Homo sapiens: one gene and its partner. The protein of the gene in region 2 interacts with the protein of the main gene of each other region in a biochemical or structural test. Each region holds a gene or a part of one and is shown on either strand. Other genes may lie near its edges.

What was found. Proteins that work in one complex are often made in the same cells at the same time.
Region 1: the proteins of AURKA (region 2) and MYT1L form a complex in vitro, tested with the Homo sapiens proteins (one study listed by BioGRID).

Annotation. Positions count from the first base shown.
Region 1 is NC_000002.12:2,324,776-2,328,275, reverse strand, and holds part of MYT1L (myelin transcription factor 1-like protein), read left to right. Parts: intron 1-1,167; exon of another isoform or gene 1,168-3,500. UniProt on the Homo sapiens protein: Transcription factor that plays a key role in neuronal differentiation by specifically repressing expression of non-neuronal genes during neuron differentiation.
Region 2 is NC_000020.11:56,378,716-56,382,215, reverse strand, and holds part of AURKA (aurora kinase A), read left to right. Parts: intron 1-644; coding exon 645-783; intron 784-3,500. UniProt on the Homo sapiens protein: Mitotic serine/threonine kinase that contributes to the regulation of cell cycle progression.

The DNA.
Region 1 (3,500 bases), on a different chromosome or scaffold from region 2:
CCCAATTATTTCACTGTCTGATGTTTTCTGTCTGCTTTCTGTGTCAATGTTTAATAGATTAGGGAAAAGAAATAAGTGATTATGCAATTTCAAAGATTTGTAAAGTTTTTCTATTTGTTACAATTATACTTAAAATTAAAAAATTGAGTTAATAATCTGATTATTTGTTCAGCTGCTTTTATAAATACTTTACATTTATAATTTTTAAAAGCCAATTACTTCTCTGTGAAAAATTAATTTTGTCAAGTAAATAATGTTTTCAAAGTCACATGCATAAACTAGATTTCCAACTCTACCTGTAAGCCAATTTAATTTGAGGGAGAGACATTATTTTAGAAATACATAATATACAATCTGAAAGACTTTGTTTACTTGTTATATATTTTAGTGGATACATTTTAACTTCAAACAACTTAAAGGTTTATTTACCCTTAAATATTTTATATTAAAAAAAACTCCTCTGTGGAATTAGAGGGACTAGTCAGATGCTCTTTGATAATGACCACTCTGCTTTGCACTTACAGTTTGGTTTGGCTGGGTGTCCCTTTTAGACCAGGGCTATAATTTTCAATCAATAACCAGTGTTTCCAATGCATGTTGTCCTTTGCCAGGAAGTCTACCTTGATGCAAAGTCTCACCAGAACTCTGTTCAGGAGGCAAATGAATGGTAGACTCAGAAAGAGAGATCTACAGTTTTGGTAAATTTTTATAATCTAATTACTCCATAGCGTAATTTGAGCGCAATGATGTTATGCATTTTCCTATTTCAAGTTTTTAAGAGTTCTTTTTTTGAATATCTTCTTTTTTATTTGAAAAGTTGTGTAGTATTCTTTAGAAAGGAGTAACTGAGGATAAACTTGAACAAAAACTTGCAAATAACATATTTTTCACCAAGCTAAGTTTCATCATACTGTATTCTGTACCACAACACAACACCTGACATTGATCTGCATTTCTTCCAAACAAAACTGAAGACAAAAGATACCACAAACTTGAAGAAGTAAATAGATGTAGGTTTGTGTTTGTGTGTGTGTGGTTGGGGGCAGTGTCATATCTACATATCATGGTTGCTGGTATGAAAAAGATATTTTAAATTGACATACCACCCCAATATTTAAAATATTGCCTATAGTGACCATAACTCATATGAAATAATACAAATATTCTACTTTTATAGTATTTTATTGCATGATTTTTTCTGATATTAGATTATTTAAAGGCAACAGCTATCCATTTTTTCCATCAGTGGGCTATTTCAATGCAATGTGGTTCTGTTTGTAATATCTTTGTGTCTTGTCTCTTCTCTCTCTTTCTCTCCACTTTCCTTTCTCTCTCTTCTGCCCCCTCTCTCTTTAACTTGGTCCCTGTTTGTCTGTTTTGCCACCCTCTCTTCTCTCTGTGTTTCTTTCACACCTGCATTGTTCAAGCATACACAGTGATTTTTCTATGCATGTTTCTACAATGGAAGTGTTTTTGGCTTTGACATCATAATGAGTCCTCAGGGTATCTGTAGAAGTAATCAGAGATGGCAGAGAAAATGTAAGCCAGGTGTTATAAAACTAGAAAGAATGCATGAATGCTTATTTATTAGATAGAGAAAGAGTGATAAGCATTGCTGTATTAGGCTGTTCTGCTAGGAAAATTTTCCTACCATGTACCTCTTTTAAAATAATCTCTGCTCCCCACGTGGTGATTATTGGAAAAGTTGGCGGGGGGGAATATTTTAGTCTTACTGTAAGGAGTATTGTGTTGTGAGAAGATGGAATGGTACAGGACATTCTCTTAAAGCTTTCCTTGCTTTCAGACTGCAGTGGTGTCTAGCAGGGCTCGATGGGAAGGGAATTGCAGCCTCTATAGTAACCAGTAAGTCTGGTCCCAACACATCAGGGAAGAGCTCGGTCTTCAGAGGAATTACCTCTGAGAGCTGGAAGAGGGTGTTCCTGGTAACTTGGGGCTTCTCTGTCAGTCTCCCCACGGAAACCACAGTCAGAGCTGTGCTCTGTGGAAAGCCTGCAGTGGCTGCTCCCTCGTGCTGTTCTGCTCTCGACTCTCACTCACTGTGGATAGTGGGCTGGTGGAGTGCGGGCGCCAGAGGGTAGGGGTGAATGGAATGGAAACACAGAGGGAACTGTGACCAGCACGTGCGATGGTCTCTCCACGGCAGACAGAGCCCTGCGTGGGTGAGAAGCAGACTGCGGAACAGGATTTGGCTTGATGGCCACCAGCTCTTCCACAAAAAGGTACCTCTTTCCTTTTATTGTAAAGGTTACATAGGATTTCTTTTTTTCTTAATTTGCCTGGTGGTTGCAGCTCCCAGTTCTTCTCTTAAGTACTTCAAAAATAGTTGTTTCTCCACCTGCCTGCCTATCTCCAGCTCTCATTTGATTGCATACACAACACTTCCTAAAGTCTCTTGGTTAGGCGTGTGAACGCGCCAACAATGGACCCTCTCTCAAAAGAGCTTCTCCTTCAGTGTAATGCCATTGTGGGCACTGCTATGTCTGCATGCTGCCCGGAGTTGTTGTTAAACATGAGTCTGTGTATTCAAGGCTAGTTTCCTGGGGCGAGGGTGGGAGGTGCTAAAGTAGCCTTTATGATTTAACGTAGCCTTTCATAGCGGTGAGTGTTATAGGAGAGAGGTTTGCAGAGAGTGAAACGGTATGGTCACCACCAGAGTAAAACATCTGTGGCTTGACTCAAGAAGCCATTTATAAAATCAGCACTTTTTTAAGCCAGAAAAAAATGCTAATGAACATCAGGTATCTATGTTCCCTTAGCTATTTTAAAAACCATATTAGGACTTGTCTTTTCAAAGAAAACTTTTTCTATATTTTTTTCTTCAAACAATAATAAAAGGTGAAAAATGTTTTAACTTTCTTAGACAAGTAGTTTCATAGCTTTTGTTTTAAAAGAAAACGATGCAAGAAGCTCATACTGAAACAGAATAATATAGTGAGGTTGGCAACCCGAAAACGATTTTAAGAATTGGTTAGAGTTAACTCTTGTGTCACCATTCTTTTATTTTAAGAAGTGACAGGTTTTGGAACCTCTTTTTGTTTTGCTTGGATGTTAACCAGCAATGCCATCTAAAATACTGTAGGTTCAGCTTACTTCTGTGAGGTTTCTTTGGCCACAGCATGAATTTACCATAACATCAATGATACGAGAGATATTTTTAGATATATTGCCTAGCTGGTAGCTGCTAACAGCCTGACTCCGGTATTTACAGTTCTCATCTATTACATTAAATACAGCACTGCTCATGATACACATTCTGCTCTAGAGATTTAGGGGCCTGTGGGTACAAGGCAAGCAGCATACTGCACACATCTCCACTCGTGTCTGACTGTGTTGCAAGCTTGATACACAGGAAGGTTAGAAATTACTGGTTTAATCCACAGCTGTAGCTTGAAAAATATCTAGATCAGCAGTGAAGTTCCCTCCCACCTTAGGATTTGGGGAAGTGGATATGTTTTGTGTTGCTTCAAGGAGGCAGCCTG
Region 2 (3,500 bases):
GTCAAACTACTGTGGCAATGCCATGTCCTTTTTTTTTTTCCTTTTTTTTTTTGAGATGGAGTCTCGCTCTGTTGCCCAGACTGGAGTGCAGTGGCGCAATCTCAGCTCACTGCAACCTCTGCCTCCCAGGTTAAAGCGATTCTCCTGCCTCAGCCTCCTGAGTAGCTAGGATTGCAGGCATGCACCAACAAGCCTAGCTAATTTTTGTATTTTTAGTAGAGACGAGGTTTCACCATGTTGGCCAGGCTGGTCTTGAACTCCTGACCTCGCGATCCTCCCGCCTCGGCCTCCCAAAGTGCTGGGATTACAGGCGTGAGCCACTGTGCCCGGCCATGTCCTTTTTTTAATATGTAGATAATTAATATTCAGCTGAATTTTCCTCCTAAGAATAAAGGTGCCTAAAGGAAGGAAATAGTCTTAACTAAACCAGAGGTCCATTAATACTGTGAAGTGCTTTTAAAATGATATGTGGGTGTATGTATTTTTCTTGGAGTGGGTTTATAGTTTCAGATTCTAAAGTGGGGTTTGGAGTGTGGTTTCATGTGAAACACCACTGGTTTTACATGAAGAGTTTGTTTGACATTTTGTACATAGTCTTCTGTGAGCTCCAAACCAAGTGTTAGAATGTTTATCCTTTGTTGCAGGCATCCTAATATTCTTAGACTGTATGGTTATTTCCATGATGCTACCAGAGTCTACCTAATTCTGGAATATGCACCACTTGGAACAGTTTATAGAGAACTTCAGAAACTTTCAAAGTTTGATGAGCAGAGAACTGCTACTGTAAGTGTTCATTTATTGTCCAGGCTAATTGTGTTTCCTTTATACCTGTCCTCCATAGCAATGTACCTTTCATCATAGTAGAGTGGGTTTTGTCTTGACGTAAGGATAGCTTAATATCAAATATTTGAAGTGGAAAAATCAAAATAGCTTAGTTGTACCATATGTACAGATAAAGTCTAGAACCAGGTAGAATGTTGTATCTGCTTTTGTGCCTAGTTTGCACAGCTGTTTTCTATGGAAATGTATATAATGTATATAGATAGTCACCCTCATTTTCTTTAATAGATGTTTTATTTTAGAATAATTTTTATTTTATTTTATTTTTTTTAAAGGGACAGGGTCTTGTTATGTTGCCCAGGCTGGACTCAAGTGATTCTCCACCTCAGCCTCCCGAGTAGCTGGGACTACAGGTGCACACCATTGTACCTGGCTAGGATAGTTTTAGATTTACAGAAATTGTGAAGGCAGTACAGAGAGTTCCCATATACCCCACACTGAATTTCCTACTAATTCTCCTACTAACATCTTGCATTAATATGGCACATTTGTCACATTCAATGAACCAATATTGATATATAACTATTAACTCAAGTCCACATTTTATTCAGATTTTCTTAGTTTTTCTCATGATTAAATTGGGCTTATGGGTTTTTGAGAGGGAGATCAGAGGTAAAGTGCATTCTTATCACATACCAGGGATGTAAACTCTTATGACTTTTAACTGTGGATGTCAGCTTGATCTTCTGACTCAGAGAGTGTTTGTCTGGTTTCTCCACTGTAAAGTTACTATTTTTTCCCCTTTCCGTGCTGTATTTCTTCAAAGGAAGTTACTATGAATAGCCCACACTTAAGGAGTAGAGAGTGGATGGAGTATTGCCATAAATTATCTGGAATTCTGTGCCAGAGATAAGGCTGTTCTCCCTTATTTATTTAATCATTTATTTATTTAAAGATGTAGACTCCTGGGTATTTATTTTATCTCTTGAGCTATAATGCAATACTTTATTTTGTGGTTCAGATCATTGCAACTTTGGCCACTGGGAACTTTTTTTCTTTCTTTTTTTTTTTTTTTCTTTTTGAGACGGAGTCTCACTCTGTCGCCCAGGCTGGAGTGCAGTGGCGCTATCTTGGCTCACTGCAACCTCAGCCTCCCAGGTTGAAGCGATTCTTCTGCCTCAGCCTCCCAAGTAGCTGGAAGTACAGGCACCCACCACCACACCTGGCTAATTTTTGTATTTTTAGTAGAGACGGGGTTTCACCATATTGGCCAGGCTGGTCTTGAACTCCTGACCTTGTGATCCACCCACCTCAGCCTCCCAAAGTGCTGGGATTACAGGCATGAGCCACCGTGCCCGGCCTGCTCTTTTTGTTTTACCAGGTTCCTGGGAAAATCATTGCAGTTTTGTCTTGCGTGTGTGTGGTTTTTTTTTGGTTTGTTTTTACACTTCCTTTTTTTTTTTTTCTTTTTTTGAGATGGAATCTCACTCTGTCGCCCAGGCTGGAGTGCAGTGGCATAATCTTGGCTCACTGCAGCCTTCACCTCCTGGGTTCAAGCGATTCTCCTGCCTCAGCCTCCTGAGTAGCTAGGATTAACAGGCATGCACCACCACACCCGGCTCATTTTTGTATTTTTAGTAGAGATGGGGTTTTGCCATGTTGGCCAGGCTGGTCTCTAACCCCTGACCTCAGGTAATCTGCCCGCCTCAGCCTCCCAAAGTGCTAGGATTACAGGTGTGAGCCACCACGCCTGGCCTTGTACTTCCTTACTTTCTGATACAAGATGCTCAGGCCTCATCGTGTATATTTCCTGCTCCAGTCCTAGAATCGAACCACTTCTCCAAGGAGCCCTGTTTCCTTTTCTTGGAGAATGTTATTAGAAACCAAGCTCTGGGCACTTGGTGTACTCATTGCTACTATGGTGTCACTACTTTTAGGCTTTCAGCTGACACAGCAAGGGAATATATGTGGATAGTAATCTGTGTATAGATTTATCCATCTATCTCTTCATTAAGCATACCATGAATTCATACTGATGTCTTCAACTTGAATCCATTACCACGTTTCATTCTAACTTCCTCCTGTTTACCTGTAAACTCCCACTCCAAAAGTGTGAAACCTGGATTTCACCGCCCACCATCCTTTTACTTATTCAATTCCAATATACATGTATAATGGTATCAGAATTGTTAACCAGCTGCCACGTGGGAACCAACTTTATCAATTAGAGTGCTTATGTGCACTTCCTTTGGCCTTTGTCTTATAGATTCCACTCATTTCCAAAGCTGCTTGGATCAACACTTTACCCTCATGCCCTTTAGTAAGGTGGTTTCCTACATTTGTAATGCAATGAGATTTTTTTGTCACAATCTGCATGCCCAGGATGGAATCATTTACATTTTCATATCCTGAGATTGATTTTTGTGTGTTTGCTGTAAAGTTCTATGAATTTCGACAAATACACAATGCCATGTATCCACCATTATGATATAGAGAATAGTTTCGCTGCTCTTAAGAAAAAAAAAATCCTGTGTCTCAACTACTCATCCCTTCCAACCCTTCCATCTCTGGCAACCACTGATCTGTTTACTGTCTCTATTGCCTTTTCCAGAATATCATGTAATTGGAATCATAACAGTATGTAGCTTTTTTAGGTGGGCTTCTTCCACTTAGCAATATGCATTGAAGATTCATCTGTGTATTTTTGGAGGCATGAGAGC